2 linked regions of the Homo sapiens genome follow. The protein of the gene in region 1 purifies or fractionates together with the protein of each later gene. This does not show direct contact. Each region holds a gene or a part of one and is shown in the gene's direction. Other genes may lie near its edges.

Region 1 (3,815 bases):
GAGATGGTCATTGAAGTGGTAAGAAGTGTCCCAGTATCTGTCCGGCTGTCCCCACCTCCTCACTTTGTCCTCTCTTCTGCTCACACCCTCTACCTGCAGGTCTCCCTGCTCTTTCACCCCGAGGGGAGCCCTGGTCGAGTCCCCACTCTGCTCTGACTCTCTGGGAAGCTGGGGAAGAGCCCTCACTCTCCCTGGGTCTCAGTGTCCCCTTGGGCACTATGGGCAGGGGGGTGGGCTTCTGGACTGTGTCCACCCAGCCTGAATTCTGCCTTGGGCTCCACAGAAGGCGATCGGTGGCAAGAAGGACCGGTCTCTCTTCCTGTTCACGGACCTCATCGTCTGCACCACTCTGAAGCGAAAGTCAGGCTCCCTGCGGCGCAGCTCCATGAGCCTGTGAGTGGCTGGGCCGGGGTTTGGGTGGTGCCAACAGGGGGAGCATTTGTCCCTCTCTGAGCCCCACTCCCCGACCCTGGCCAGAGCGCCCCATTGGCTCCCCACAGGTACACGGCAGCCAGTGTCATTGACACAGCCAGCAAGTACAAGATGCTGTGGAAGCTGCCGCTGGAAGACGCAGACATCATCAAAGGTGGGTTTGATGCTAGGGGTTCTGGGTGTTGGGGTCTTCCTCTGAGAAGCCCTCCTGGAGGGTCTGAGCTCCAGCCAGTCTGGCTGCCTGTCCAGCTGCTTTTCCACTTTTGGGCCTCGCTCTCTCATCCAGTGCAAGGGGGCTGGCATGAAGGACCCATTTGGCACCCATGGAGCCAGACAGTCTGTCCATGTACACTTCCTTCCAACTGGGCAGGGACCTAGGCTGGCAGCGGGAGCTGGGTGGGGGTGGTGCACACAGAGCAGCATCACTGTAATTAGCCATTGATTCATCTGTGCAAAATCATTTGAGCGCCTAATATTAGATGATGTTGCACTGTCTGGTTCAGCGGTTTCACACACAGGGAACAGACACTCGCTTGAGTTACTGCAAGCAAAGGGTTGATTGGAGCCATCCATGTTGTTCAGGGCTGAGACTGTTGGGAGCTGAGGCAGCTTCCAGGAGCCGCTCCTCCTGCGGCGTCTGTCTTTCTTCCCTTCTTGCTGAGTCTGCCCTGTTCTCACTGCTGTTAGCTTTCCCTGCTTCCTCATAACTCCCGTGATCAGACCCAGGCTGGCTCCTGGCTCAGCTGGAGGGGAGCTCACCTGGAGCTTGGCCCTCAGGGTAACAGACAGGTTTGCTCGGCCCCTTGGTGAACCCAGGCCTGCCCACTATGTAGGAATACCAGCTGATTATTACTCTAATTGGTCCAAGTCAATAGAATGACCACCTTTAAGTTAGGTGCCCACTCCTGGTCCAGTCAGCTGTGAGCAAGAATGGGGCAGGGTCATATGGAAGAAAACATGGCTGCCCAGGTGGTGAGGGTTGGGATGGGACAGTTTCTGTCAAAAGGAGTAGATCGGCTTCATCTCTTCAGGCTGTTTTAACAAAAATACCACAGACTGGGCAATTTATAAACAAGAGGAATGTATTGCTCACCGTTGAGGAGGCTGGGAAGGCCAAGATGAGGGTGCCAGCAGAACTGCAAGGGGCCTGTGCCTCACAGAGGGTGCCTTCTATGTGTCCTCACTTGGCAAACAAGCTCCTTCAGGCCCCTTTATCGGCACAAATCTCATTCACGATGGTTTCCCCCTCATGACCAGGTCACCTCCCAAAGGTCCGCCTCTTTTTTTTTTTTTTTTTTTTTTTGAGACGGAGTCTCACTCTGTTGCCAAGCTGGAGTGCAGTGGCACGATCTCGGCTCACTGTAACCTCTGCCTGCCGGGTTCAAGCAATTCCCCTGCCTCAGCCTCCCAAGTAGCTGGGACTACAGGTGCGCACCACTACGCCCGGTTAATTTTTTTTTTTTTTGTATTTTAGTAGAGATGGGGTTTCACCATGTTAGCCAGGATGGTCTTGATCTCCTGACCTTGTGATCTGCCCACCTCGGCCTCCCAAAATGCTGGGATTACAGGCGTGAGCCAACACGTCAGCCAGGTCCGCCTCTTAATACCAACACACTCAGGATTCGATTTCAACCTGTGAGTGTTGAGTGGACACAAACATTCAGGCAACAGCAGAGCTGTTCCCAGCCTCGGCCTGGCAGGAAACTCCACTGCCATCCACCGGGCACACACTCTTCTTCCCGTAGACACAGTGAGACAGCCTCCCTGTCCAGCGTGACTCCATCTTACAGTTACAAAGCGTGCCCTCCCCTCCTCAGCAGGCTGCCTCTCACCCCCACGGGGTTCTTGGTCACAGGGCCACTTCAGACAGGACTTGCCAGTCTCAGGTTCCATGTCTCTAGTGCTGTCATGACCCGTCCAGGGCTGCCTTACCATTCTGCAACCTGTGGCCCAAATATTAAATTTATATACACCAATAACACATTCTATAAACTAGATTGGAGAAAAACAGGAAAAGAAACTCATTTAGGAAAAAGCAAAAAGACACTTCTTTTCCCTTGATTTCAAGACACATGTGTCCTGGCCCAAGGGTGGAGGGACAGCTCCATGTATGGACCACTGGTCCAGAATGTGCGTCCCAAGCCTTGGGTTGAGGGCGGCAGGCCGTCTGCAGGACCAGCTGCTTGGCAGTGTTCAGGTATGGGATAGGACCATAGAAATCCAGGGCACCATGCACTGCCCCCTCCTTTGTGGGGCGATGAGTCTCTTGGTCAGCACATTTGACTGCCTGGGGCTCTGCCTGCTCTGTCAGCACGCCCACGGGAGGCTGCAACGCCGCAGCAGTTCCGTGTCAGCCAGGGCCTGTGTATCGCAGAGCCAGCCACCATTTCATACTCCATGCTCTCCTGGGAATTCTCCGTGGGCCTGACATCCTGCGCCACATGGCTCTGAATCAGGCCTAGTCCCCAGCTCACAGGGCTGGGGTTCCTCAGGGAGCTGCCTGTTAACTTTTTTCCCAAGAGCTTGGGGTTTCTATGCTTTCGGTTTGTCAGGTCTCTCCCCGGCCCAGCTGCAGGCTATGCAGTGAGGGAAGGAGAGTCTGTCCCAGCCTGACCTTGTCTGTCTCTGTATCAGTCCACGGCCTTCCTCTCTCCCTCTAGGGGCATCCCAAGCCACCAATCGGGAGAACATCCAGAAGGCCATCAGCCGCCTTGATGAGGACCTCACCACCCTGGGCCAAATGAGCAAGCTCTCTGAGAGCCTTGGTTTCCCCCACCAGGTCTGTGCCCTCTGCCTGACACTGGGGAGCCAGAGGGTGGGAGGCTTCTGACCCTGTCTGAGAGATAGACAGCCCTGACATTTGCCTGAGGGAAGAGACATCCCTTTCCCTCATCTGAAGGCAAAAATCGCAGCCTCCCTGCGTATGGGGGAAGTAACATGTTCCAGGTCTGAGGGTGGAGACATAGCTGCATCCCCATCAGAGGGTGACAGAGGCCCCATCCCCCATATATCAAAGGAATCCAGGTCTGAGGGAGGAGACAGTCTCACTTGCTGTCTAAGGAGAGAGGCAGGTCCCCACACATTAAGGGCAGGTGCAGGCTCTGGTGAGATGCTGGGGCCTGAGGCCTGGGCCCTCTTCCCCACAGAGCCTGGACGATGCACTGCGGGACCTCTCAGCTGCCATGCACCGGGACCTGTCGGAGAAGCAGGCGCTGTGCTACGCGCTTTCCTTCCCGCCAACCAAGCTGGAGCTGTGCGCCACTCGGCCCGAGGGCACCGACTCCTACATTTTTGAGTTCCCTCACCCTGACGCCCGCCTTGGTTTTGAACAGGCCTTCGATGAGGCCAAGAGGAAGCTGGGTAAGCCAAGGCACATGTTGGCC
Region 2 (3,815 bases), on another chromosome or scaffold:
AAACAGAATCAACTCTTACAACACTTAATCTCTTACACGGAATCCCTTGCTGCAAAGATATTTTTGCTTTACCTGGATTATATGTGTTTATGTATACATGAAAATACTAATTTAAAGTATACATATTTACTTGCATGAATGTCTGTGTGTACTTGTGAATCTCTCAGTCAGTATTCCCCAAAATACATAGAATGTTAATGGGTTACAAGAAAAAGAAATTGCCTAGCCAGATGTGGAAAACACTAAACAAAGCTGGACAAGTTGGTTTATTCTTGACTTTTCAGAGCCTTTCATGGGTTAATGATCATTGTATATGGGGATGTAAATGGGGTGGGAATGTCCATAGGATGTGATATGTAATGTTTCCCAAACTGTGTGCAAAAATAAAAAATGAAAAATATCTTGAGGGGCTATCGTTACATGGAACCACCTTTGAGAAACTGCCTTTAATGCATTTTTGAGTGAAAGGTCAGGACATATGATTAAATGTGTAAGTTGTAAGTATTTGTGCTTCACATTACTTACAGATTAGAATTCAAATTTCAGTTTCTGGTTTTAATGGATCATAACAGTTTGACCCCAGTCTACTTTTTCATCCTAAATTTCCTAACTTTCTTCCTATAAATTCTCCTGCTTAGTCCTTTGTTGTATACTATGAACCATTTTTATTTTCAGCACACCAAAAAGTCAATTCTACGTAACTTTAAGGCTTCGTGGTTGTGTAAAATGAGATGCGCTCTTCTGCTATGGCTCTTCCATGGACTGAAATAGCCACCTTTCCTCCCAAAGCCATTTTGAGTTCCTTGGCCTTGGTCCCATGTTTCAGCACAACCTTCCTTAAAGCTGTGATTTCTTGCTATTTCTGCTTTTATGATTTGCCATCCTGTTTTGGCATCAAGGCTGCCCCACTAATTACCTCTTTCACATGTGTCATCACTATTCCTAGGTTCCCCTGGTGAGAGCTAGGTAGGGTGGGGATGAGAAAGTCAACTCCAGGACTGTGAGTGGCAGGAGCTCACAAAATAGGGCACAAGGCCAGCCATGCCAAGCCTGGACATGAGGAGAAAGGAGACAAGCTGGGGCACAAGCCCTAAGAAAGGACCAGGAGGTCCCTCATCAGAGTGGTTAGAGGAGTGTGGAGTCCAGTGAGCTGGGCTGCTATTCAAGCGGTGTGCATGGGGACAACTGTCCTCATTGTTGATAAACAACCATTCTGACTGGGCAGTGTCCCTTCTATACCAGTTGCTAAATGTTTTGCACATCATCTAGGTAAGCACTCACAAGTCAGGGTGCATACAGCATCCATAAGTCATTACAAAACCTGGATCAAAACCTAGCTGGTATAAAATGCCAAAGAAAGAGACAAGATGAGTGAGTCAAAGACCACATAAGCAAGCAGAAGAAAGGAGGGCACATGAATCAAAGGACAAAAAGCAGGAAACCCGGTGCCAATCAGGAAGTTAGAAGAAGCCCATAAGTTCCCAAAGGCAAGAGGAAGGACATGGTTAAAAGCAACAGGCAGTTAAAACCCAGAAAGGCGCAGATCTCCAAGTGGAAGGCAAGGAGATAAATAGAGGTCAAGCAAGAGGAACTCCTCTAAAAACAGAAAAGAAGGCCAAACACAGGGACAAGACAACAGCGGGAAATAGGACCCGCCATGAGAATTAGAAACCAAGAGGCAGGCTGGGCAGACAGCAAGACTTTTTGGCTTTTTGACTGCTTCCTACCCAGGTGGAAATCTATCTCATAGCTTGGCTAGCTTACACTATGGTGGCTTTCTACACCTGGCAATGCTGACCCGCAGCTCTTACAGGTTTTGCCTCTTTATATTCAGCAGATCTTGATGGGGAAAACAGAGGGAAAGAACACCTAAAACACGAGATTATTCCACAACCAAGGACGAAAGAGAAATAGCTTTGACTGAGGGCTTGCGCTTGCTAGACACTGCGCCTAATATGTACATGGTCACCTTAAGTGTCACCTCAGCCTTCTGAGATAAGTACTGTTCTTTGCATGTTTTACTGAGGAAGGACCAGAAGTTTGGAGAGGTTGTCACTGCACACATATCTGCACCATCAGACCTTGGGTTGGTTAACTCCAAGGCCCGTGCTTTTAGTCTTCTGTGTTCTTCTAACCTTGGACAGGAGCAGTCACTAGTGGGCACCTTGTTTTTCAAGTATGATTTAATCTTTGGCAAGTTTGTGTTGTAAGATTGGGAAATACGAGCTCTGCATTCTAGTAAGATCTGTTCCTCTTTCCTCTTTCAGCTTGTTCCTTCCCATTGCCGTACCATATTTCAGACTGAGACTTCTCCTTATCCCGCCTCATTCTGTCCTTCATCCTCTGCAAGTATTTCCCAGAATATATAGAAGTCTTTTAGTTGTTTAAAATAAAACAAACTTAATTGGCCCATCTTCAAATAGCTACATTACAAAACAGGCGGTTGCTGTGTTATATTTGCCCAGCAGCCAGAAATGAATTAAATATCTAAGATCAATTCATGTTTTGTTGGAGGATACATTGATATGCAGATTCTGTTCTAATTTACTAGTTTTAGAAAATGTGGATTTGGTTCTGGTGCAAATCGGTGCACTAATTGTTTAAAATTATGAAATATTGAAGACATATTAAAAAGAATAAAGAGGGCTGAGCGTGGTGGCTCACGCCTGTAATCCCAGCACTTTGGGATGCCAAGGCAGGTGGATCACCTGTGATCAGGAGCTCGAGACCAGCCTGGCCAACATGGTGAAACCCCGTCTCTACTAAAAATACAAAAATTAGCTGGGCGTGGTGGCGGGCACCTGTAGTCCCAGCTTCTCGGGAGGCTGAGGCAGGAGAATGGCGTGAACCCGGGAGGCAGAGCTTGCAGTGAACGGAGATCGCACCACTGCACTCCAGCCTGGGCGACACAGCCAGACTCCGTCTCAAAAAAAAAAAAAAAAAAAAAAAGCCATACTCCTTATTTTCCTTCCCAAGGCTTGTATATTTGGATAATAGGAAGAGTTATTTAAGGGCCCAAGTCATGCTTCCATCAGCTCAAGTCTTTAATCCTATTTTCTGTTTTCCTAACTGGCTCCTGTACTTGCCCACCAGGACTCCTGGAAGCCTTGTTAGGCATTTGCTTCACTCCAGCATGTACATTAGCATCATATTGCATGTTAAATGCTTGCCATGGGACAGACACACCACTGGAGGGGAGGCTGTAGCAGTGCTTGCTAACTTCCCACGGCAGCATTGCTAACAGGACGGAAGACAAATGGGAGCCCTTGGGCAGCCTTGGTGGGGGCAAAAGCAGACCAGCCATGAGCTGGAAAAGCTTTGATTTGACTTTAAAAGCTATGAGAATACTGCATTCTTCTCCACAGTATTTCTATATTTGCTTTTTAAAAATACAGCCTGGGCAATGTAGCGAGACCCTGTCTCTACAAAAAATTTAAAAACTAGCTGAGTATAGTGGGACATACCTGTAGTCTCAGCTGGGGTCAAAGGAGGTGGGGGGAATACTGAGGCAAGAGGTTCACTTAAGCTCAGGAGTACAAGGCTGCAGTGAGCTATGATCACATCATTGCACTCCAGCCTGGGGAACAGAGTGAGACCCTATTTCTAATAATAATAATAATAATAATAATAACTAGCTTTTCCCCAAATCTTCAGATCAAAGTTGTGCTCCAGGAGGATGCAAGTTTTTTTTTTCTCCTCTGACTTTGAGATCCCCTGGTACATTGACACAACATAGGCAATTTGTTTTAACAGCTACTGTTACATAGTATGAACATGTTATTTTAATTAATTAATGTATTTTCCTACTGAAGTAT

Evidence for each region.
Region 2: the proteins of ARHGEF17 (region 1) and TMOD2 purify together in Homo sapiens (affinity purification with mass spectrometry; one large-scale study listed by BioGRID and IntAct). This does not show direct contact.

What each region holds. Positions count from the first base shown.
Region 1 is NC_000011.10:73,356,742-73,360,556, forward strand, and holds part of ARHGEF17 (rho guanine nucleotide exchange factor 17), read left to right. Parts: coding exon 1-18; intron 19-283; coding exon 284-393; intron 394-500; coding exon 501-586; intron 587-3,092; coding exon 3,093-3,211; intron 3,212-3,578; coding exon 3,579-3,792; intron 3,793-3,815. UniProt on the Homo sapiens protein: Acts as a guanine nucleotide exchange factor (GEF) for RhoA GTPases.
Region 2 is NC_000015.10:51,754,476-51,758,290, forward strand, and holds part of TMOD2 (tropomodulin-2), read left to right. Parts: intron 1-3,815. UniProt on the Homo sapiens protein: Blocks the elongation and depolymerization of the actin filaments at the pointed end. The Tmod/TM complex contributes to the formation of the short actin protofilament, which in turn defines the geometry of the membrane skeleton.